Homo sapiens: one gene and its partners. The protein of the gene in region 1 purifies or fractionates together with the protein of each later gene. This does not show direct contact. Each region holds a gene or a part of one and is shown in the gene's direction. Other genes may lie near its edges.

Region 1 (4,030 bases):
GGCTGGAGTGCCGTGGCTACTCACAGGGGCAATCATAATGCATCGTTATATATAGTAGTATATAGTCCCATTTATATGAAATGTCTAGAATAGGTAAGTCCATAGAGCCAGAGCCAGAAAACAAATTGGTGGTTTTGAAGGACTGGGTGGGGTAGGGGAGTGGCTGCTAATGGGTATTAGGTGATGAAAACATTTTGGAACTAGACAGAGGCGGCGGCCACACAACATTGTGAATGCATTCAATCCCAGGGAATTGTATACTTTAAAGTGGTTGATTATTTTATGTGAATTTCACCTCAAAAGCAGAACGAAGCGAAAGCAACAATAATGCACAACAGAACTCTGATTTTATGGGTTTGCATTGTTTTCACATCCTACATGCTCATGAAGATCTGAAGGGATACCCATTAAATTCACCGTCACGATTGCCTGGCTGGCCATTGCATGGTTTGCTGCTTTGTATGTAGCATTTCAATTACATAATAAGAAGAAACAGGCCAGGCATGGTGGCTCACAGCTGTAATCCCAGCACTTTGAGAGGTCAAGGTGGGAGGATCCCTTGAGCCAAGGAGCTCAAGACCAGCCTGGGCAACAAAGCGAGACCCCATCTCTACAGAAAAATTAAAACTTAGCCCAGGTGTGGTGGCAAGCACCTTTACTCCCAGCTGCTCAGGAGGCTGAGGCAGGAGAATCATTTGAGCCTGGGAGGTTGAGGCTGCAGTGAGCCATAATCACACCACTGCACTCCAGCCTGGGCAACAGAGCTAGACCCTGTCTCAAAAAATAAAAATAAAAACAAATACGTGTGTGTGTGTTGGTTTTAAAAAATTATTTTAAAGGACATTTAGTTGGGCAAATGACCCAGTTGGAGAAGAATGAAGGTGACGGGGCATATCAAGGCAGCCTCTGCAGTCCCTGGGGGCAATGGCAGGGCTGCCCTCCTGTCAATTTCAACAGTCATGGGCCCAAACCCCAAATCTGTAGAGCACTAGACTCTGCTCAAGCTCTTGACAAGCTCAGGGAATTGACTCACCCCTGGCAGGCGGGGGGAATGGGAAAGTGAGGATACAGATTCCCTGAGGTTGCCTCCTCTCTGGCAGGGTCCCTGGGGTCCCAGCATCCCTGTAGCGGAGACAGAGACAGTAGGACCACAGCGAGGGAAGCCGGTGGGCAGGGAGTCAGGGAGGGATAAATAATCGCATTTGGGCTCAGTCAAGCCCCCGGCTCAGCTGGTGTGGCTGCTTGGTGCAGCCCACACCTGGTCAGCTCCCACCTGTGGAGAAACTCCAAACTAGAGCCTCCTACTGGGATGAAGCAGAAGCAGATGCCTGGAGTCCCAGGTGAGTCACCTCCCCTCTCAGCCACCTGACCAGGAGAGACCTGGGGAACCAGCACCTGCCAGGGACTCCAAGAAACCACCTGTTTATATTACTCCTTTAGCAATGTGAGTCTACAGGGCAGTGGGTGACAGGCAGAGGCCACTCACCACGTCTTAGTCAGTGTGCTGTTTGCTTAGCAGGACTTACCTTCTTCTATTTTTTTTTTTTTTTTTTTGAGACGGAATCTCGCTCTGTAGCCCAGGCTGGAGTGCAGTGGCGCAATCTCGGCTCACTGCAACCTCCGCCTGCCAGGTTCAAGCGATTCTTCTCCCTCAGCCTCCTGAGTAGCTGGGACTACAGGTGCGTGCCACCATGCCTGGCTAATTTTTTGTATTTTTAGTAGAGACAGGGGTTTCACCATGCTGGACAGGCTGGTCTTGAACTCCTGATCTCGTGATCCACCCGCCTCGGCTTCCCAAAGTACTGGGATTACAGGCATGAGCCATCGTGCCCAGCCAGGACTTGCCTTCTTTAGAGCTCCTGCTGCCTCATGAGGTAGGTCCCTTGGATGGGGGAGGTAACAGGTGCAGAGAGAAGACAGCCAATGCTCAATGTGACCCAAGGTGATGGTTTGATTTTAACCTCTCTTCTCGGTCTGTCCAGGCAAGAAGTCTACGGAAAAAGGATTGGGAAGAGGCGGAGAAAAGAGAGAAAGAGGATTCAGGGTTCAGAAGCTCCAGCCACCACCCCAGGGTGTAAAGAATCAGGGTGGGCCGGGTGCAGTGGCTCATGCCTGCAATCCCAGCACTTTGGGAGGCCAAGGTGGGAGGATCACTTGAGTCCAAGAGTTTGAGGCCAGCCTGGGCAGCATAGTGAGACCCTGTCTGTACAAAAAAATACAAAAATTGGCCAGGAATGGCAGGCACCTGTAGCTACTCCAGAGATTGAGGTGGGAGGATTGCTTGAGCCCAGGAAGTTAAGGCTGCAGTGAGCTGTGATTGTGCCTCTGCACTCCAGCCTGGGTGACAGAGGGATACCCTGTCTCTCTCTCTCTCTCTCTCTCTCTCTCTCTCTCTCTCTCTCTCTCTCTCTCTCACACACACACACACACACACACACACACACACACAAGGGAGGCGTCAATGGGAGCAGGTGGTGAGGGAATGGTTAGGAGCTGGGGATGAGAAGATGGAGAGAAAAGAGAGGGAAGTGGTGGCTTAAGTGGAAGAGAGGGGAGGCCAGACAGCTTCACTAAGAAGAGAGAGCCAGGATGGGTGAGAGTTAAGGCCAGATGGGGTCTCAGAGACAAGACAGGCCTGGCCCATGGAGTGATGCTGTCACCCAGGAGACACGTGACAACGTATAAGGACATTTCTGATTGTCGTGACTGGGGAGTGCTGCTGGTATCTATCTGGTGGGTGGAGACCAAGAATGCTGCTCAGTCTCCTGCAGTGCACAGGACACCCCTCTGAGAGAGAATGATTCGCCCCTAGCGTCCCTAATGCTGAAGGCAGGAAACCCTGCTCTAGGGATGTCTGTGGCAGGACTTGTCCACAGCCACGCTTAGCCCTAGAGTCTCTGAGTGGAGAACTGGCCCCACCGGGTGTTCCTGTCAGTGCTAGACAGTGGGCTTGCTTGCTCTCTCTCTTTCTTCTCACCTTTTTCTTCTCTTTCCCCTCTGTCCTCTCTTTCTCCCTACCTCTCTTTCCTCTCTCTGTTTCTCTTCCCACCTCCCTCTCTCTCCACTTCTCTCTCTCTCCCCACCCTTCTCTCTGTCTCTCTCTCTCTTTCCCCAACCCTCTCTCTCCCCACCTCCCACACTCTCTGTGTCTCTCTCCCCACTTCTCTCTCCCCACCTCTCTCTGTGTCTTTCTCCCTGTCCTTCTCTCTCTCTCTCCCCCCACCTCCCACTCTCTATCTCCCCACTTCTCTCTCTCCCTCCATCTCTCTCTCTCTCTGTGTGTGCTCTTTCCCCACATCTCTCTGTGTCTCCACCTCTCTGTCTCTCTCTTTCTCTCTCCCCACCTCTCTTTCTTTCTCTCCCCACCTCTCTCTCTCTGTTTCTCCCTCGCCTCCTCTCTCTCTCTCTCTCTCTCTCTCTTCCCCTGCCTCTCTCTCTATCCCCATCTCTCTCTTTCTCTTCCTACCTTTCTCTCTCTCTGTTTTACCTACAGAGGAACCCACTGGATGTTCTGCTGGTGAATCAATGCCCAGAAGCTCTAAATCCTCCTCGCTGCTATCCTAGTCCCACATCCACCATGGGTTTGGTTTTGTTTTACTTTTTAAAATTAATAGACTTTATTTTAAGAGCAGTTTCAGATTTACAGAACATAGAGCAGATAGATACTGCAGAGAATCTCCATATACCCTCTCTCCGCCTGCACACAATTTCCCCTATAATTAGCAACTGGGATTTTTTTTTTTTTTTACCATTAATCTGTTACAACTGATGAACCAGTGTTGACACATTGTCATTGACTGAAATCCACAGTTACATTAGAGTTCACTCTTGGGGCTGTACATTCTCTGGGTTTTGACAAATGCACAATGTCCTGTATCTACCATGACAGTATCACACAACATAGTTACACTGTCTTAAAAACCCTCTGTGCCCCACCCATTCATCCCTCCCTCTCACCCACTGGTCCCCTGGAAGCCACTGATCTTTTGCTGTCTCCATGGTTTTGATTTTTCCAGAATGACTGGACTAC
Region 2 (3,500 bases), on another chromosome or scaffold:
CATGCCTACGATTGAGTGCTAGGCACTGGGAATATAAGGATACATTCCTTGTCCTCAAGAAGGTGTTTAGTGCCAAGGTGTAGTGCCCAGCATGGGGAGCTATGGAAGCTCAGAGGACCTCTATCTTTTATTTTTGTTAATACTCTGAATGGTATCTTTAATATTATTAATGTTTTCATTTTATAACTTGTATATATAGATAGAAAATTTTTATTTAGTCGTCTTGCTAGACTTAACATTAGTTTTAGTAATATCTGGTAATTCTTTTATATTGACACAATTGTTGCAGATGATTGCAGTTTTGTTTTATTCCTGACTAGGACTGCTATATAGAAAGGAAATTGTTTAATTATTTCACCATCGAATAGTGTGGTGTAGCTCTTTTTGTATTAATAGATAACCTTTATAAGATTAAGGAAGTTGCCAGGTGCAGTGGCTCACATCTGTAATCCCAGCACTTCGGGAGGCCAAGGTGGATGGATCACTTGAGGTCAGGAGTTTGAGACCAGCCTGGCCACCTTGGTGAAACCCTGCCTCTACTGAAAATACAAAAATTAGTCAAGCGTGGTGGTGGGTGCCTGTAATCCTAGCTACTCGGGAGGCCGAGGCAGGAGAGTCGCTTGAACCTGGGAGGTGGAGGTTGCAGTGAGCTGAGATCGCGCCACTGCACTTCAGCCTGGGGGACAGAGCAAGACTCTGTCTCCAAAAAAAAAAAAAAAAAAAAAAGATTAAGGAAGTTTACATTCATGTTTATGGGTAGAATATAGCCTATAATTTTTCTTTCTCATTCTGTCCTTGTTAGGTTTTGGTATCAAAGTTTTATTAGCATTTTTTATTTTTGGTAGACTTTTTATAAATATTTGATAGAGTTGGTAAAGTCATCTAGGCCTCCAGTTTTGTTTGTAGGAAGATTTTTTATAACCAATTTAATTTCTTTAACAATTACAAAATTCTTCAGGTTTATTACTTCATGAGTCATGAAGGTTACAAAATATAACCTATTGAACTCATGCTAGGAATGCTAGGAATTTGTCAGGGAGAAAAATAAGAGAAGAGCTTATAACATGTAAAGGTGTTTATTAAAATATTGTTTACATAAGTGAAAAATTGGAAACAACATGAAATTCTAACATTGTAGGAATGATTATTTTAAGGAACATCTATTCAAGGAGTGTTTTGCAGCAGATGAAATTGTGCTTATGAAAACTATAAAGCAACATAAAGATATTTGATATGGTGCTAAATGAAAAAGTAGGATGTGATATTTTTTGAACCTCATTGATTTGTGGCTATGTATATAGAGAGTACAAGTTAATATACAAAAGTTTAATAGTAACACTATTAGGTGGTTGAGTTTTAATTTAAAAGTTTAAATGCCCCTTTGCTCTGTGTCACTTTATTTAGCCTTAGTGATTATTGTCAACAGATGTAATAAACTGTATATCTCTTTATTATTTCAACTTTTATTTTAGATTTCTGCTTAAAAATAATGCAAACCGTGCTGAAAATACAGAGGGAAAACAAAATTGAGTTGTTTTTCCCGTTTTCCAGACTTACTATATAATATCACTGTTTTTTAGTGAAAAAAAAAATTACACTGAAAATTTAAAAGAGTAGAGGGAATAATATATCAGAAGGGAGAGCCCTTTTCCTATTTTTTGGGTTGGGGAAAAATGTTTTAAGTATGTGTCTGTGTTAATAATATCTGACATAAGAGCCAATAGAATATATGGTCTTTGTTCTCAGGATACTTTTCTAGGAGGCTTTTAAAAAATTCATCTTCAGGTAAAATCGAATATACTTTCCTCCACAGTCTCCTTACTTCTCTTCCCTCTCCCCTCCCCTCTTTCTCCCTTTTCACAGAGTCTCACTCTGTCACCCAGGCTGGAGTGCAGTGGTGCAATCTCTGGCTCACTGCAACCATTAATTCTTAATATCTTGTTTTAGTTCCCCCCCACCCCAACATTGATTAGGCCTTTGTGGGCTTTGAATATTGTCCAAATAAATTTCACCTAACGCTGGATTTTTACCTCTACTTATAGTGATTTATAATCTTTAAATCATGTTAGTGTTTTTTTTTTTTTTTTTTTTTTTTTGACGGTCTTGCTCTGTCACCCAGGCTGGAGTGCAGTGGCACGATTTCGGCTCACTGTTACCTCTGGCTCCCAGGTTCAAACTATTCTCCTGCCTCAGTCTCCCAAGTAGCTGGGACTACAGGCACGCATCACTACACCTGGCTAATTTTTTTGTATTTTTAGTAGAGATGGGGTTTCACCATGTTGGACAAGCCGATTTCAAACTTGCGAGCTCAGGTGATCTGCCTGCCTCCGTCTTCCAAAGTGCTGAGATTACAGGCGTGAGCCACTGCGCCTGGCCTAAATCATGTTAGTTTTAAAGTTAGCTATCAATAATATATTTGTACATCTTTTTATGTTACTTTGCTTTTGTGGTATGTAAAAACAAAGGGGTCTTTAATGGATAATGAATTATCTACTGTAACTAAAATGAATATTTTAGTTTTTATGTAATATTTTTGGGGAACATGTATTTTTTATTGCAATTCGGGGCATAAATGGGGAATTTTAGAAGCATATATTAACCTATCTAATATTCTGTTTTGATTGGAAAAAGTTTAAATGCCTTTGCTGTGTGACACTTAATCCTTATTGATTATCGTCAGCAGATGTAATAAACTATATATCTCTTTATTATTCCAACTTTTATTTTAGCTTTTCAATGATCTGTTTAAAAATAATGCAAACCGTGCTGAAAATACAGAGAGAAAGCAAAATCAGAATTATTTTATGGAGGTGATGACTGTAGAAGGAGTCTATGATTACCTGATGTATGTAGGTAAGATCTAAGTGGTTTAAGACTTGTTTTTCATTCATCTTACTTCTTCTGTGATGCAAATAATGATCTTGAGTATTGCCCCATCATAACTGTCTTTTTAATTGAAGATACCTTTTATAATAATTCAATACGATTGGCCTTGATCATATTAAAGTTGCTAGTGTTTACAAATAAAATATTGACCATGGTCATTTGTGTTTTCTACATTGGCAAATTTCAAAAATACCAATTCATCTGGAACAATGAGGTATCCCATTTGATCCTTTCTCAGGACGGGTAGTTTTCCAGGTTCCTGACTGGCTTCATCATCTCTTAATGGGAACTCGAATCCTCTTTAAAAACACCCTGGAAATGTATACTGATTACTATCTTCAGTGTAAACTAGAACAGCTATTTCAGGAGCACCGTTTGGTCTCACTCATAACACTTCTCAGAGGTTTGTATTTTCTAATGTGTTTGTTTCATATTTTGTGTACTCTATGATTTTAATTGAATCTAAAGAGGAAGAAATCTTGTTTTGCTTTGGTTTATTAGTATTTCTACTATGAGGAAATCCTTTGTGTATAAATAGATGAAAATTCCAGAAATATTTCTTTTTACTCTTTTTTAGATGCTATATTCTGTGAAAACACTGAACCTCGCTCTCT
Region 3 (3,500 bases), on another chromosome or scaffold:
CAATTGGAGCACACGGTGCCGGGCGCAGTGGCTCACGCCTGTAATCCCAGCACTTTGGGAGGCCAAGGCGGGCGGATCACGAGGTCAGGAGATCGAAATCATCCTGGCTAACACAGTTGAAACCCCGTCTCTACTAAAAATACAAAAAAATTAGCCGGGCGTGGTGGCAGGCGCCTGTAGTCCCAGCTACTCAGGAGGCTGAGGCAGGAGAATGGCGTGAACCCGGGAGGTGGAGCTTGCAGTGAGCCGAGATTGTGCACTGCACTCCAGCCTGGCAACAGAGTGAGACTTTGTCTCAAAAAAAAAAAAAAAAAAAAAAAAAAAATTGGAGCACACAAATACAACCAACATGGAGACTTATTCTGCCAGTGGTATAAGTGAAAAAGCTCCAGGGCTGCAGCTAATCAGAAGTCCAGTGGGGGGCCGGGCGCGGTGGCTCACACTTGTAATTCCAGCACTTTGGGAGGCTGAGGCAGGCAGATCACTTGAGGTCAGGAGTTTGAGACCAGCCTGGCCAAGATGGTGAAACCCCGTCTCTACTAAAAATACAAAAATTAGCCAGCCACAATGGCACGAGCCTGTAATTCCAGCTACTTGGGCAGCTGAGGCAGGAGAATCGCTTGAACCTGGGAGGTGGAGGTTGCAGTGAGCCAAGAATGCACCACTGCACGCCAGTCTGGGCGACAGAGCGAGACTCCATCTCAAAAAAAAAAAAGAAAAAAAAGAATAAGTCTACTGGGAATGAGGAGTTAGGGGCTCCAGAGCCTACCTTGGCCAGGGGTTGCTGGTGCCCACTACCCAGGGAAGAGAAGCCCCAGGCCCCCTGCATGTCACAACATGCCTGGAACCTGGCACCCAGGTGTGGAGGTCACCACTGCATGGGGTCCTGGACACTGTACAGGACACCTGGAGATGCTGTCACTCATGGAGGGGTAAAAAGCTAGGGAGGTGTAACAACTGCTCATGCTAGAATGACATGGCGGGAATCGCGCAAGCAAGACAAGGTTGCCCTGTGGGTGAAAGTTACAAAAAGGGGGGGTTGATTCCGGTTCTGGATGCGCTTTCTCCCGGCCGCATCTGCCCAGTAGCAGAACCAGTAAAGAATCCAGAAGGCAGTGAACATCCCCCCAATGGAAGGATTTGGGCAGAGACTAGCTGTCATCACGGGGAGGCTGTGAGTGGGGCTCATGGTCCCGTGGCCCCTCCTGAAGCAACAGTGTGATATGGGGAAGAACATGTTGGATTTGAAGCCTAAAGACTTGGCTCCTACTTTTGGCTTTTCTGCTTGCTAATTGTGTTTGGGCAAATCTGGCCCGAGTTTTCTGTACAATAGGGACAGTACTAAAAATACTCGAGAGAGTTTTTGTGAATGTCAAATGAGGCAACGGCGAGGCTCTTAGCTGCAGTTACTAACTTTCATATGATTAGTCCCTGGTAAATTTCCCCATCTTTCCCGGTATTTCTGGGGGAGCCGCGGGAGGTGGCAGCTGAGCGTGCACTACCATGCACAGCCCTCTGTGACCAGCACCTGCTGTTCTCTTGAACGTGTGTCCCTGCCCGCCGTCCTGGCCTCCAGCTCAGCTGTCTCCAGTACTACACGGGACCCAGCAATGCAACGGCAGGGATGGAAACGGAGGGCAGCTGCCTGGAGAACCCCAAGTATTACAACTATGTGGCCGTGCTGTCCCTCATCGCCACCATCATGCTGGTGCAGGTCAGCCACATGGTGAAGCTCACGCTCATGCTGCTCGTCGCAGGCGCCGTGGCCACCATCAACCTCTATGCCTGGCGTCCCGTCTTTGATGAATACGACCACAAGCGTTTTCGGGAGCACGAGTAAGATGAAGCGTGACTGGGGATCTGTATTGTCTCCTTCCTCCCGCCCGCAAAGTCCTCAGTTCAAGCTCATGGGCCTGTGCTGAGGTGGCTTTCTGCCACTAGGGGTCCTCAAAGGCTTGTTCAAGAACCAGTTCCTGGCTGCTCACAGACGTATCACTGTTTGGCTAGGACCTGAGAATAGATTCTTCCCATTCTCCCCGAGTGGAGGACTTGGGATACCCCGGTGCCTGGCTGGGCATCAGGCTCTTGTTCCCAGATGGGGCCTGACTGTGCTGTTATCTGTCCAACAGCTTACCTATGGTGGCCTTAGAGCAGATGCAAGGATTCAACCCTGGGCTCAATGGCACTGACAGGTAAGGGCCACGGCTTCCCCTCCTGGCCTGCACTCACAGCCCTTCTTCTAGAGACAGGAATATAACAGGCCCAAGCCCCGGGATCTCACCCTCCCGGGAGGCACGTGACCTGATACGTGCAGGTTAGAGAAGCTGGCATGGGTTCCTCCAGGAGGGCTGCAGCAGTGCAGTGAGGAGGGAAGGAAATACCAGGTGGATGGCAGCTGCATGTAACTGGCTGGCAGGACAGACAGGCAGCAGGAAAATGAGGAGGGAGGAAGACGCTTTGGATTTGGACCTGGCTTCTGAGCCTGCAGCAGGCAGTAATTCTCTGTGGGTCACAGGCAGGTCCGTTTCCATGAGTTGCAATTTCATCTCTTGAGGAGGATACTGAACCAGAAGTTCTCTAAGGTCCCTGCCAGTGCCAAGGTTTTAAAATTTTATGATTCCATGACTTGAACAGACCTTCAAGGAAGTTTAGAAATAAAAAGATGACCTAATAGAAGAGGGGTAAAACCTGCATAGCCCTTAGCAAAAGAAGAACTCTAAATGGCCACTAATAAATGGCACTCAAGTAATCAAGGAAATGCCAGTTACACCCTAGTGAGATACCATCACACACGTACCGGTCCAGATAACTCTGACAATATCAAGTACAATAGTAACTCTTACACTCCTGGTGGGAGTATGAGTTAGTACAACCGTGTTAGAAAATATTTTGATCTATTTAGTAAGGTTGAAAATAAACCTGTGTCCCAGCAATTCCACTCCTACATACACACCCACGCAGACGTGTGTATATGTGTATATATATATATACACACATCTTAGAGAAATTCATGCACATACTCATGTCCCAGGATATATGTATGAGAATGTCCAAAGTGGCACTGTTCGTAATAGACATACCCCCTCCCCCAAAACAAATGAAAACAACCCAAATGACATCAACAGGAAATGGATACATAACTGGTATATTCATGCAGTGAAATACCATACGGTAATGGAAACTAACCACAGCTCCACATAAAAATATGTATGAACAAGGTAAAAAGCCATGGTGAGATTGTACCCCAGTCCCATGGCTATGAAATCCCATCACTGATGTCTCTTGCTTCTCCAAATTCCTGCATGGTTGTAGCTACCTCTGTGATCAGTCAGGCAATGCAGTGTTTCTTAAATACCTGGGGAGCAGCCCTGATGTGAATACCAGGTGCAGCCAGGAGGGGCCAGGGGTTGCCTGGCTGTTGGAGAGGAGCCCAGTGAGTTAAGAAAATTTTACTGCCCGGGGGAGCCCGACTTGATGTGAAAGGGCCTAAGGAGCCGGGG
Region 4 (3,500 bases), on another chromosome or scaffold:
AGATAGTAAATAGGATAAACTGTATCCATACTGGTAACAATATGTTATAATCATCTGCTCAACTTCTTTTTGAAATTAGGATGGATATGAATGTCAGACATATTACCAAAGAAATAAGACTTTTAGATAAAATATTTAGGAATAAAAATGCAGTATGGGGCAATTTATCTTTTACATTGTTTTGTAATTTTATGTGGCAATTCTAAAAAAAGGAAGTAGGCTAACATACAGGGTCAGAGAATTGGTAAGATGGCTATAAAATTGGTGAAACACCATCATAATAAGTGGTTTAAAATAATCACCGTATCAGTAGAGCCAATTCTGTTTTTGCTAAATAACATCTCCCTACAGAAACTTCTGACAGTTGTGGATATATTGGTCTTTATCATTTCAAAATTTAAATGATAGCCTGCAGAAACCCTTAATAGCATTGACATCGTTCTTTCACAGACATTAAACACCCTACTAATTATCAAGAAGCACACTAAGCTCTAGGGATAAAATTGTGAGCAAAATAGACCTAGTTCAGATGTAAATGATTTTACAGTAGTGGAAACCGATATTAGATTTAAAAATACATATGCGAACTTAATTACAGTTGTGCTAGGCTATAAAGGAGAATGGCACAATGTTATGAGAGAGCATGATTGAAGATGAGCCTAGTCTGGCAGATGAAATAGTGGTCTGGGGAAAGTTTTCAAAGAAATCTGTGTTGAGATCGAGGTGTAAGGATGAGAAGATGCTGGTAGATTAAATGGGAAAAGAATATTTCAGGCTAAGGAGCAGCTTGCCTAAAAGGCCAGTGCTGGGAGAGAGCAAGGCATTTTCAAGGAACTGAGGAGAGTCAGGAGGCATTTGGAAGTATGGGTCTGGAGTTCAAGAGACCAAACTAGGCTTTACATGTGGCTTGTTACTGAAGCTATCCATAGCTATGGAGAAAATCACTTATAGAAGAGAAGGATGGGCCTGGAGCACTGACACAATTTCATACACAGTACAAAGTCAAAACTGGTTGGGTGAGGTTGTAGATGGTAGGATACAAGTGAAGGTGGGGGACTTTAAGTCCCTTCTCATCTTGAGATTTCTGCCTATGTAGAGTAGAGATGGATAAGCAAGGCCAGAAACTTCTTTAGAAGTAGAAGTGCTGGTGGTGTGTGAAATTTTAAAGGTATCAGCAAATGACCAAATTTTATGAATAAACAAATTGTCAATATTGAGCATAGATACTGTTTTACTCTTGCAATTAAATAAAATATAGAACACTGTTAATCTGTCATTCAGTGTGATCCATATCAAGTATGGATATCTAATATAAATGTATTTCTATTGTTGTGCTCCATAACATAGAAACCAAGAAATTCACCACACATCATAACCATGTTTTACTTCGTCAACCAAACTACATCATTAGTTTTTGTTGCCTAAAACAATCACTGATAGTGACAACTTTTCTGATATTATGTGTTTTGTCACTGTAGTTTTCTTAATTAAACGCTCATGTAATAAAAACAAAAACTTTGTGCTCTTAGGAGCTGTGGTTCCTTTGCATGCCTTGCAGCCAACCACCTCCATCTCTCCAGCTTACAGCTTTGTTTATGTGTATTTGGCTTCACAATTTGTCCCAGAAAATTCGGTATTGGCGGACCCTAAGACACAGGGATATTTCATTGCATACCTCTCATGTAGAAGAGTGATCACGTACATGCTTGCAGCAGATGAATAGAAAACTAGGCTCCATGGAGGCCAGAAAACACCGTGAAATGATGTTGGATTCTCTGTAGCTGGTCATATAAAAGCAGAGGAGTGAATTAGAAATTTCTGACCCTGACTCCTTAATAACTAGGTACAACTAGAACAAGCTGACTCATACATAAAGTCTTACATGTAGTATAATTTCAGATTAAGGAGGAACCATTGCATATACATGAAAAAATAAATCATTAACGTAAATGAAATAAATTAGTTCAGTGATATTAGACTTATTTGTCTCTCTTGACTGGGAAGTGGAGATGGCTTTGGAGTTTGGAGGTAAAGAGTTGAGAACCTGGAAAGCCCTAGTTGCCTGAAAGAAAGAAAAATATGCTCTTGGATGTGAGGCAGAAGATAATCAGCAAAAGAGGGAGACTAAGGACAGTGAGATTTCTCTCCACAATTTTGCCTTAGATTGAACGTATTTATCTTAGTCTTTTCTGAGAAATAGAAGCAGTGAAGGAAAACAGAAACAGAACCCAATTGTCAAGCATGGCTGATGTGTAGGGGACAATCGCCTGGCAGCACATCTCCAACTCTTTGACCTCTTTCCTCTTTAGAGTCTTAGCTGTACCTCTCTTCCAATCAGTGCTTTAGTAGTCTTAGCACTACTGCAATTATGCCACGGCTTTAAAGGGTGAGAATCATATCCCTCTGTGTACACATTCCTTGAATTCAGAGTTGTATTACTTCCAATTTTCACAGTATGTAAATATGGGTAAGAAATGGACTTTGCATATAAAGCCAGAAAACAGTAAATCTAAGAAACAGTGAACTGGTTGTTCCTGGCTTTCTTGCACTGGACTTACACAGAATCATAATGATGAATTGTTATTACAAGGGCACACTTAGCCATCTTGTAAATCACTGTGTGAATAGGGATAAAAGTGGATTAACACATTTCAACCTCATTTAACTCCCTGTGGGAAAACTTGTAGATTGTCCACATATTATAAACAACTAGTTGTTAACAACAGGGTCCAGATGTCTAGTTTAATAATGGACAGCCTGCTGTCTCAAGTCTGTCAAAAACTGAAATACTACTCTGTCCCCTAGGGATCAGATAGGGTGATCAGCAAGCTGCACAGGTTCCATTAAGGAGTGATGGTAATGACTTCTGTCACTGCCACACCATGTGGTGATTACATTGGCAAATTATAGATGGAAGCTGTCAGTATTTTGTTTCCATTTCTTACCTTTCTCTGCTCAAAAGAGTTTATGTGCTATTTCATCCATTTCCAATAAAAATGCAGAAGATAAGGTGAAAATGTATGATAATATTGAATATAGTATTTATCACAGCATCAGAGAACATTTACCAACTACTTAGCATGTGTCAAACATTTTTCTAAGCATGTTACATGTATTACGTATTACTTTATTTAATCTTTATACCAATTCTGAGAAATTCTGTTATTTTTCCCATTTTACAAATGAATCAACCAAGGTACAGAAATATATCACTTGTTCAAAGTCACATGACCTGTAAGAGGTAACTAGAATCTAATTATTATGCCTATTCACTATGTTTACAACATACACAAATGTGATTTAATGCTATTTAAATAATAGGAAGAACAAAATTCAAACAAATTTAAAGGCTTTTGAAGTCAGAAAAGTCATACAGCTCTTGCATCCCCATAGGCCAGTGTTATAGTGACTTGATTAAAATAAGTGTTAAGGAATTTTTGAAGTTGGTCATACTTTCTGAAAGAAAAACCTCTTTTGCCTCTAGATGTAGAGCATGGTTC
Region 5 (2,911 bases), on another chromosome or scaffold:
GGGAGACCCACTGCTTGCCAAGCAACTGCTGGGCTAGAGCCCAGGCTGTGCGGCCTCCATTGTAGAGGGAGGGTTTTTATGCATATCCATCCCTCACTCTGGAGTCCTGCACTTAATCTGCACTTTGGGCCTTACTTGGGGGTAAATAGCATCATTGTGCACAGAAATGCCAGACAGTGTTTTGTGTTGATAGAAACGTATTCAGAAAGCAATGCCCATTGTTCCCCCTGGCTAAATAATAATTCCGTTTCCAGGCAGTTTGCTGATTAATCAGACAGGTGTCTTTCGTTCCACCAAGAAAAACAAAATCTGTCAGCAAGATGATTAAGAATAGATAGGCATATTTCAAAACAATTAAAATAGCATTTTTACAAGTCTGGTCCTTTAAACATTGAGTAGCTGCCTGCTGTTGGAGGCTTTCAGGAAACACACACCACATCCAAGCATGCCATCCTGTTAATACGCAATACGTCTCTAAAGGTGCTCTTCAGGCATTCCTCCCTGAATATGTCTGAAACCTCACAAAAGAATAAAAAATAGAGGCAACCAAACCACTGTTGAGTCAGGAAACACAGCAGAGATTATATTCTGGTTAAAAATAGAATGACCTTCTCCACCATAAAGAGAAAATGAAATTAATTTAGTCAAGGAGACAAAGGTCACCGGATCCAGATGATTCAACTTTTAGAAAGGCCCAGCTGCCTTTGGCCTTTGAGTTGGGGACCCTACGTGTGGTGAGGGAATGAACAGCGCCAGTAGTGCCCTGGCCTTCTGTGGACGCACACCCGGCAGCAGTAGGCTCTGTGTGCCTTCGCACATGTGAGTTATGATGCAGCAATGCAGGAGAAGAATAAAGCAGCTGTCTGTTTCAGATGACAGGAATAGGCCACTGGACTCCATTCTCTCCCAGCTGCTGTTGGAATCCCGTTTGTAGGAGGCTATAGGGTGGTCTCACTGCACATGCGCAGGTTTCCTAAGTCTGGTGCCAAATGTTTTCTTGGTAAGAACTAAGTCCAGTGCTTTTATAAGAGAGCACAGATACTGTTGGACTGCAGGGTCACAGGTGCCCTTTAATCCTCCACACCTGGTCTAGTACCTAAGACGTGTTTTGTGAATAAATGACTAAATGTTTCTTATATTTAATTGTAAGAAAAAGCTTGAAATGAAGTAAAAGGAGCTTTGACTCCAGAAACATTGAAATGAAACAAAGGAGTTCAGCTCTTGATGAATTGGTTACCTCTTTTATCTTTCAGAGTCAGAGCTGACAAATTTGGCAGGATTATACAGAGATGAACGATTGAAACAGAAAGCAGAGTCGCTGAAACTTGAAAACTGTGAGAAACTTTCCAAACTCATTGGCCTACGCAGAGGTGGCTGAGAGGATAATGGTCCTACGCAGGGCTGGGGTTTTGCTACTTGTTCCTATTTATGTTCCTGATTCCATTTTATAATACAAAACTAGGTAATGATGAACACTTTACTATTTGCTAACTTCGTTGGTTGGGCAGAGTGGCAGGAGCATGGGCACGAGAGCCAGATGTGTCTTCACAGGATCCTTCCTGGGGAGTGGCTCCAGGGACCAGGAGTAGTTCATCTAAGTTAAATTAATGGCAAGGCATTGGATTCCGTCTCCCTGCTCCATGCCTACCCTGCCTATGTGAATGGAGTTCAGGGCATCCCAGAGCAGATCCATGCTTTCTTCCTTCTTCCCTTCTTCAGTGAAGTCTTAAGAACCAGGCATTCCTAGGCTTAGCCAAAGCTTAATATTAGTTATTTACACTGTCTACCAAGAATTATACCTCTCCCTTCATTAGAGTCATCATCTCCGCCAAGATTTAGCCTTTGGAACATGTTCCTGCCCAGCTTTCCATTTTCTAGGGGAATATGGAGAAATTTAAACTATTGTAGTCAATAGTTTTCTATTATTCCAATCTCTGCTCAGTTAGTAGCATTAGCAAACTGCCTAATTTGAGATTCCTTTATTTCCTTAACCCTCTCTCCTTTAGAGAGTCCAGAAATTAAAACTACTGAGCAGCATCTGGAGGCGGGGGCCAGGGCGAAGGTATAATGCAAGACCGAGCCTCATCTCCTCCACGAAGCCTCCCTACTCCATCATAGAACCCAGAGAATGTCCCTTCGGTCATTTCCCCTCAGTATCATCATTGGTGTCATCGCACTTAGGCTGAGTTCCTACATCCCACAGAGGCAGATGGTCAGACCCAGGAGGAGGCATTGCCAGCTCTCCAGGCTGTTTGCTCAAGCCTAGAGATAGAGGAGACAGATCCTCTCTCCTTGGATATGGGGGTCTAGCTTTGGCCCCAGCAGCCACTTTGTTTAACCCAGTATCCTATAGTTTGTGATTTGAGATGATTTTTCATTCATTCAACATTTATTGAGTGCCTACTATAAAAGCAGGGGCTCTCACACATATTTTCTTACTTAAACCTCCTCACAACTCTGAAGTAGATGTATTATCCCTGGTTCTATGAATGAGAACATTGGCCCAGAGAGGATGACCCAGGTCTTGTAGTGGCAGAGCAAGACGGTAGGCTGAGTGTCAAGTAGAAAGTGGGAGAGCATCCTCATGTCTCAGGTGATTCTAGCCAGACTGGCAAAGCAGAACCTTTCCCGAGGATGCCTCCGTCCTCCCCAACCCCATGACCCCTCATCTTTTCTGTGGCAATCTTGCATCTGTTCAGGACAACATCCCTGCTGCTCTTTAGGAAGCAGGACCCTGTCTAACATAAATTCTGTACACAAAATAAGAGGTCCCTCACAGGCAGGCAGCCCTCCACTGGTGACTAGGAAGAATTCAGTCACTGCCTGGGCTGTGTGGTTCTGGGCCTTCCTGTGGAGCTGAGCTGCCTGAATTATCATGACTCTGAACTTGGAAGGATCATTAAGTGACTGT
Region 6 (3,500 bases), on another chromosome or scaffold:
AGACCAATTATATTAGGACCTCTAAGGGTAAGATCCAGGCTTCAGAAATTTTTAAAACTCCCAGGTTGCGTCCAGTGTGCAACCAAGGCTGAGAACTACTGCCTTAAAGAGAAAGCATTAAACCTAAAAAGAAGGGTGAAAGATAGTAACCAACTTGTAAACAGATTGTACAGGATAAACTTGAGGCCCAGCTCCTTGATAGACCTCATGTTTTAGTGTAACATTTAATAATCTCATTCTGGATTGTTTAAAAACAAATCTTAATTTGTTTGTGTCTATACTGAGTGGACAAGACTTTAGAAATTAAAGTGCAGTCTAGTTTCAGTATTTTATTATTCCAAAAACACATGACACATTTCAGTAGGAAATTCACTGCCTGCTTAACAAATTGAAATTCTTTGCAATAAAAATGTTTAGAAACTGAAAACACTGTATGTAATTGAACACTGACTGGTTGAACTATATTGTAGTAATGACACATTTTATTACTACCTCCAGAATTTAATTGTCATATAAGCTAACTCTTGTAATACTCAATGCAGCGAATTGAACCGAAACAAGATTAAAAATGTAGATGGACTGACATTCCAAGGCCTTGGTGCTCTGAAGTCTCTGAAAATGCAAAGAAATGGAGTAACGAAACTTATGGATGGAGCTTTTTGGGGGCTGAGCAACATGGAAATTTTGTAAGTGTGGGTTATCACAGTTCCTACTGAGGTAGTATGATCATAGAATGCTCAGTGTACATTCAGCAGGTCTTATGTGAAATCCTATGTTAAAATCTCATCATCCACAATCTTATTTATAAGTCAGTATTCAGTTTTGATTCAGGTAATGTGATCGATAATTTATAAGTACCTAAATTTAGTATAGTATAAACTATATAGTATTTTTTTGCTGACGTCTTCATATAACAAAAGCTAAACATCTAATAACAATAGGAATCTGTAATAGGTTGTAATCATATGTCCCCTTTGAAGAGACTAGATAATGAAGTTTTGATCCTGCTTTTGATTCTTACTGTAAATGTAGGCAGCTGGACCATAACAACCTAACAGAGATTACCAAAGGCTGGCTTTACGGCTTGCTGATGCTGCAGGAACTTCATCTCAGCCAAAATGCCATCAACAGGATCAGCCCTGATGCCTGGGAGTTCTGCCAGAAGCTCAGTGAGCTGTGAGTTGCCTTTTATTTATTCTCCTCAGGTTTGAGAGCAGGGATCATGCCAGGGCATGAGCTTCTTACCACTGATCTGTGAAATTTTCATAACAAAGTTTCCAAGGTGACAGCTTTTTTCACATGCAACCTAGTCTTATTTTTGTTGTGATAAGTTGAAGCCAGTTCTACTGTTGCAGTTCTATGTCACGTTGGCAAAAGCAATGATGGTTATTTTCAAGTAAAGAGAACGTATTTTTTTAATTACTGATATTAGAAATATTTACTTGGATATTATTAAGGCAGAATTTAAAAATAAGGATTAGTGTAGCTCATACAGTACCTGTCTTTTGGAAAACAAATCATTGTGTTGAATTGAAAAATAAAAGCTATTGCTTTTCTCTTTTTTCTTTACAGGGACCTAACTTTCAATCACTTATCAAGGTTAGATGATTCAAGCTTCCTTGGCCTAAGCTTACTAAATACACTGCACATTGGGAACAACAGAGTCAGCTACATTGCTGATTGTGCCTTCCGGGGGCTTTCCAGTTTAAAGACTTTGTAAGTTACACGTTTTGCTGTCAGTACTCGAACGTAATTGGTTCCTAAATATGCCCACTTTTCTCCTAGCAGATTTCCTTTGTTGTCAAGGAAATGCATACAGCCTCAGAAGTAGTATCTTAATCTTTCCCAGATCAGTTTGATTACAATGGATCCATTTCATCCATATGTGTTTCGTATAGGGATTAAAAAGGACAGTGATCAGTTTGTTTTGGTGATTACAGTGAACCTTCTCAGGATCTCCAGGAAATTGGTAACTGCTTAAGAGGGAAACAATTTTAAGTCCACTAAGTTTTTCTTTGTAAAATACAGATTAAAAATTACTTAGAGCAAAAAGGTCTACAAAGGGCAAGGAAGATACTGTTTATCATGCCAGTTATATCCTCAACCTGATCTCTGTCCTAAGAGAAAGAAAAGGGAGTTAAATTAATTGACCTTTGAAAAATTTCTCAAATGGTAATTTAAGGTTGTGCAATGGGCTTTTGATTTTTGCTCTGTCAGAAACTTTTGCTCTGTTCGCTATTTGAAGCATTACGTAATTGAAAGACATACTGTATGCTTTGGCGAACTTCTGCATGCGTGGTTGGAAGAGTGGTTTTAAAGTTTAATGTATTTTTCAGACTGTTCGGATCATTCAGAATGTAGTCATTTTGATAGAGGAATTAATAGGGCCAGTGTCAGCTTTTTCGGATTTTAGGGAAAAACTTAAAATGTTGTTGAGGGAATCAGGCAGGGTGTAAGAGGTAAGTTGGAGAAAAAGAGTTTTCTATTATTTTGAGAGAGGTGGAGATAATGTGGGGAATTATGAGAAATTTTTTACAAATGATATGCCACCTGGGTGGTGATACTAGGCTTTCTGAGCTTATCACTCTAAAGGGAATGCTTCTTTTAAAATTAGGGATCTGAAGAACAATGAAATTTCCTGGACTATTGAAGACATGAATGGTGCTTTCTCTGGGCTTGACAAACTGAGGCGACTGTGAGTATGAATTGCCTCATAATTTAGCTCACTCTTTGATTTAAAAATTTTGTCTTCACTGAAGTCAGCTATACAAGTTGACATCATGAAGAGATGAGAAATCAGTGCTTAATCTGGTTACCACCCTTGATCCTCTCCCCAAATGCCTGCTGTTGCGCAAGATGTATATTATTAACTTTTTCTTCCTTAGGTGAAAGTGTTTTATTCAACATTTTAGTATGTGTAATTTACTTTAATATCCTCATAATAATTTTCATCTATGTTGAGGGCTTACACTTTTGGAATTATCATTGCGTAAAAGTTAGTGCAGGCACTTCCACATCTTGAAATCCTCAATGTTGTACTGTCCCCGTAGGAATTTTTTTAATGAAGTAATCTAGTAGCCACTGATAATGCTGTGGTAGGTTACAAGCAAAACAGGATGAAAACATCTTATAATTAACCATAAAATGGTCTTGCAGATGGTCAAATTACATGTGTTAAGCCAGCAGTATTCAAATTCAGCTCCCTATAGTCCCAAACTCCTATGGATGGAAGGTATCCACAGAGAAGGAGAGGAAGGAGAAAACGTTCACTATTATCTGCTTTGTTAGTGTTCTGAGACAGTTTACTTGAAATAAAGTCTCTACCTATTCCTAAAAGGACTCTGAAAAACAGTGATTTAACTTAATCAGCAGAGTGACTTACTGAATACCTATTTTTGTTGGGCTCTTTGTTGAATGCTTCAAAAACCATGTTCGACTACATTATTGAAATAGATGGCATGGACACATTTTTACAGGATATATTGTTTAATTGAAGAAAA
Region 7 (3,500 bases), on another chromosome or scaffold:
TTGTTTTTTTTTTTTGAATTAATTGTGCTAACCTATAGTTTTGTTTAGGTTTTTTTTTCCAGTTCTCAAGCAGGCTGATAGAGTATATTGAATAATATATTTATCTAAGCCTGTGGTATTCAGTTGTCAAGTAGCTGTGTTATTGGTTACTTTGTTAAAATAAATATGTAAAAAGATATTTACTAAAAGGAAGATACTTCCTTGTTCCATAGTAGTATAATTCAGGGGTCCCTAGCCCCCATGTTTTGGCTGGGTACTGGTGCATGTCCCGTTAGGAATGGCCGCACAGCAGGAGATGGGCAGCGGTCAAGCAAGCATTACCACCTGAGCTCCACCTCCTGTCAGATCAGCCTTGGCGTTAGATTCTCATGGGAGCGGGAACCCTATTGGGAACTGCGAGTGCGAGGGATCCAGATTGTGTGCTCATTATGAGAATCTAATGCCTGATGATCTGAAGCAGAACAGTTTCATCCTGAAATCCCGTTGAAAACTGTTTTCCATGAAACTGGTCCCTGATGCCAAAATGGTTGGGGACCACTGGTATGATTGATTGCTAAATTACGGTTGTCTGAATTACGTTTAATTTGCATTGAAGCAATGGAGACTTACTACTGGCTTGTAAATTAAACTCTTAACAGAAGCATGTCAAAGTTTCCCCACCCAGAAGAAGAAATTACATAGTTAAATCTAATTTCTTTCTTTTTTTTTTTTTTGAGATGGAGTTTTGGTCTGTCACCCATGTTAGAGTGCGGTGGTATGATCTTGGCTCACTGCAACCTTCACCTCCCTGTTTCAAGCAATTGTTGTGACTCAGCCTCCCAAGTAGCTGGGATTACAGGCGCCCACCACCAAGCTCAGCTAATTTTTGTATTTTTAGTAGATGCGGGGTTTCACTATGTTGGCCAGGTTGGTCTCGAACTCCTGACATAGTGATTCGCCCACCTCAGCCTCCCAAAGTGCTGGGATTACCTCACCCAGCCGTAAATCTAAGTTTTTCTAAAATAAAATTCTTAAAGTAACATTATGTCCTTTGAAAGCTTTTGTAGCCATTAACATGGGGCAAGTCTTAGCTGGTTACAAGTGATTTATTAAGTTGCAGGCATTTCTGCTTCCTCATTTTAAGTTTCCAGCTCATTCCTTAGGTAGCAAGTGGTGATTATCCTTTGTGGCTTCCGTTTTAGCATTTGTGTCCTAGATGGGAGGTCCTTACAGGAAGAGGGGCAGGCATCTTAGGAAAACATTTTTATACAAAATGACTCAAAGATAATGTGTAGAGTGGGAACCGCTTGGGCTTTGAGTAGACACAGGCCTGGACTGCATATTGCTTGAGTGTGCTCAGAAGTCTGCCTGTCTTGCACAGGAGTGATTGACTCTTATAGTGGTGTCATACCCTGTTTCCTTCTGCAGATTGTCTTTGGCTCCATTGTCCTCCTGATGCTTTGGCTTCCTATACGTATAATTAAGAGTGTGCTGCCTAATTTTCTTCCATACAATGTCATGCTCTACAGGTAAGTTTTAAAAATTTAGAATAGCTTTACTAATTTATCTCTATTAGGGATTTGATGTTCAGATTACATTAAACATTTAAAACATTTCTTATAGTTACTGGAAATCATCTGACAATTAAATTTTGCTTTATTTTACCTTTATTTTTATTATTTTTTAAATTAAATTTAATGTTTAAAAAATTTTCTGGACCTTTTCCACTTTGCATAAATTTTGCCTTATTTTAGATCAGATAAACATTAGTACTTACATTTTGTAAAGGAAGATGTTTATTTTTTCTGCGCATAAAGTATGCATTTGCACACCATTGAAATGTTTTACCATACCTAATGAGAGTGTATTAGCATCATCTTTATTTTGAAAAGCACATTATAAAGAATAAAGCCAGAGTTGCACATTTAATTATTAAAAATAGGGTACAAGGCTTGTAGATGGAACATCTTTTTTGCTTTAAAAACTTAAGTGGGCTAAGGCCAGGCGTGGTGGCTCACGCCTGTAATCCCAGCACTTTGGGAAGCCGAGGCAGGCGGATCACCTGAGATTGGGAGTTTGAGACCAGCGTGACCAACATGGAGAAACCCTGTCTCTACTAAAAATACAAAAAAATTAGCCATGCGTGGTGGCGCATGCCTGTAATCCCAACTACTCGGGAGGCTGAGGCAGGAGAATCGCTTGAACCCAGGAGGCAGAGGTTGCGGTGAGCCGAGATCGTGCCATTGCACTCCCACTTGGGCAACAAGAGTGAAACTGCATCCCCCCCCCCCCAAAAAAAAAAGCCATCCGGAAACCTCCCACTACCAGTAATCTTTACCACTCATCCTATATGCTCTTTAGGGATTTGTATTATCCCCACAGTCATTATCCCAATTGCAGGCAAATTGGATTATTTCCTCAAGTTTACTTCTAATGAGTCTTTAAAGTATTGCCAATTCTAATTTCTTAAAATCTCTTACTAATCTAACTCGATTTGCCACTTACTTAATTTAGGCCTTCCTCTTGCTCTCCATTCATCCGCAACACCTCTGCCTCTAGATTTTCTAGAACTTGGATTATTTTACCCCTGTGTTTAAAAGTTGGCAGCACTTCCTCTGTAATCTATGTGATATATACACCATTTAGAATGAGATGCAAGACTTGGCATAATCTCATGTTGCTTTTTCAGTGTCTTGTCTCAGCATTGACTGACTTCAATTCTTTTAATTGTGCTACACTGCCATTGAGGCTCCCCTGATTACTTAGCTGTTTGTCTTTTTCTCTCTGTTTACAATGACTTGCTTGTCCACGTTTGAGTGGCAAGCATTTGATATTCTTTTTAAAATCCAGATTAAGGTTTTTAAATTTTATTTTATTTTTTATGAGAAAGAGTCTCGCTCTGTCACCCAGGCTGTAGTGCAGTGGTATGATCATGGCTCACTGCAGCCTCAACCTCCTGGGCTCAAGTGATCTTCCCACTTCAGCGTCCCGGGTAGCTGAGACTACAGGCGCAAGCCACCACACCTGCCTAATTTTTGTATTTTTTGGGGAGACCGGGTTTTACCATGTTGCCTGTGCTGGTCTTGAATTCCTGAGCTTGAACCATCTGCCTGCCTCAGCCTCCCAAAATGTTAGGATTACAGGCATGAGCCACTGTGCCTGGCCATCATTCCATCCTTTAAAATTGTCTTCATCGTTGTATTTCTTTTTATAGCATTTGTTACATTACTTTACAAATATGTATTGTTTTATCCCAGATGGCAGAAATCATGTCTTATTTAGGTCTTTTTCTCTCTGTCTCTCTTTTTTTAATTTAAAAAAATATTTTGTGGAGACAGGGTCTGACTATATTGCCCAGGCTGGTCTTGAATTCCTGGCCTCAAGCAATCCTTCCACTTTGGTCGCCCAAAGTGCTGGGATTATAGGTGTGAGCCACTGCGCCCAGCCTCTTATTTGGATCTTAATGCTTTGCATAGGAACATGATTGTTCAAAAATAAAAGGTTTACTCTACACATAGTAA

The links.
Region 2: the proteins of OR10H1 (region 1) and SNX14 purify together in Homo sapiens (affinity purification with mass spectrometry; one large-scale study listed by BioGRID and IntAct). This does not show direct contact.
Region 3: the proteins of OR10H1 (region 1) and ADCY3 purify together in Homo sapiens (affinity purification with mass spectrometry; one large-scale study listed by BioGRID and IntAct). This does not show direct contact.
Region 4: the proteins of OR10H1 (region 1) and KCNT2 purify together in Homo sapiens (affinity purification with mass spectrometry; one large-scale study listed by BioGRID and IntAct). This does not show direct contact.
Region 5: the proteins of OR10H1 (region 1) and DNAJC18 purify together in Homo sapiens (affinity purification with mass spectrometry; one large-scale study listed by BioGRID and IntAct). This does not show direct contact.
Region 6: the proteins of OR10H1 (region 1) and LRIG3 purify together in Homo sapiens (affinity purification with mass spectrometry; one large-scale study listed by BioGRID and IntAct). This does not show direct contact.
Region 7: the proteins of OR10H1 (region 1) and MARCHF6 purify together in Homo sapiens (affinity purification with mass spectrometry; one large-scale study listed by BioGRID and IntAct). This does not show direct contact.

Annotation. Positions count from the first base shown.
Region 1 is NC_000019.10:15,812,865-15,816,894, reverse strand, and holds the start of OR10H1 (olfactory receptor 10H1), read left to right. Parts: upstream 1-1,230; 5' UTR 1,231-1,340; intron 1,341-4,016; 5' UTR 4,017-4,030. UniProt on the Homo sapiens protein: Odorant receptor.
Region 2 is NC_000006.12:85,513,859-85,517,358, reverse strand, and holds part of SNX14 (sorting nexin-14), read left to right. Parts: intron 1-2,729; coding exon 2,730-2,853; intron 2,854-3,124; coding exon 3,125-3,289; intron 3,290-3,463; coding exon 3,464-3,500. UniProt on the Homo sapiens protein: Plays a role in maintaining normal neuronal excitability and synaptic transmission. May be involved in several stages of intracellular trafficking. Required for autophagosome clearance, possibly by mediating the fusion of lysosomes with autophagosomes.
Region 3 is NC_000002.12:24,826,238-24,829,737, reverse strand, and holds part of ADCY3 (adenylate cyclase type 3), read left to right. Parts: intron 1-1,576; coding exon 1,577-1,836; intron 1,837-2,129; coding exon 2,130-2,192; intron 2,193-3,500.
Region 4 is NC_000001.11:196,598,441-196,601,940, reverse strand, and holds part of KCNT2 (potassium channel subfamily T member 2), read left to right. Parts: intron 1-3,500. UniProt on the Homo sapiens protein: Sodium-activated and chloride-activated potassium channel. Produces rapidly activating outward rectifier K(+) currents. Contributes to regulate neuronal excitability.
Region 5 is NC_000005.10:139,412,615-139,415,525, reverse strand, and holds part of DNAJC18 (dnaJ homolog subfamily C member 18), read left to right. Parts: intron 1-1,253; coding exon 1,254-1,378; 3' UTR 1,379-2,911.
Region 6 is NC_000012.12:58,886,005-58,889,504, reverse strand, and holds part of LRIG3 (leucine-rich repeats and immunoglobulin-like domains protein 3 isoform 2 precursor), read left to right. Parts: intron 1-542; coding exon 543-686; intron 687-1,032; coding exon 1,033-1,176; intron 1,177-1,572; coding exon 1,573-1,716; intron 1,717-2,614; coding exon 2,615-2,695; intron 2,696-3,500. UniProt on the Homo sapiens protein: May play a role in craniofacial and inner ear morphogenesis during embryonic development. May act within the otic vesicle epithelium to control formation of the lateral semicircular canal in the inner ear, possibly by restricting the expression of NTN1.
Region 7 is NC_000005.10:10,405,695-10,409,194, forward strand, and holds part of MARCHF6 (E3 ubiquitin-protein ligase MARCHF6), read left to right. Parts: intron 1-1,407; coding exon 1,408-1,508; intron 1,509-3,500. UniProt on the Homo sapiens protein: Endoplasmic reticulum membrane-associated E3 ubiquitin ligase that plays a critical role in mitigating endoplasmic reticulum stress, the regulation of cholesterol and lipid homeostasis, and ferroptosis.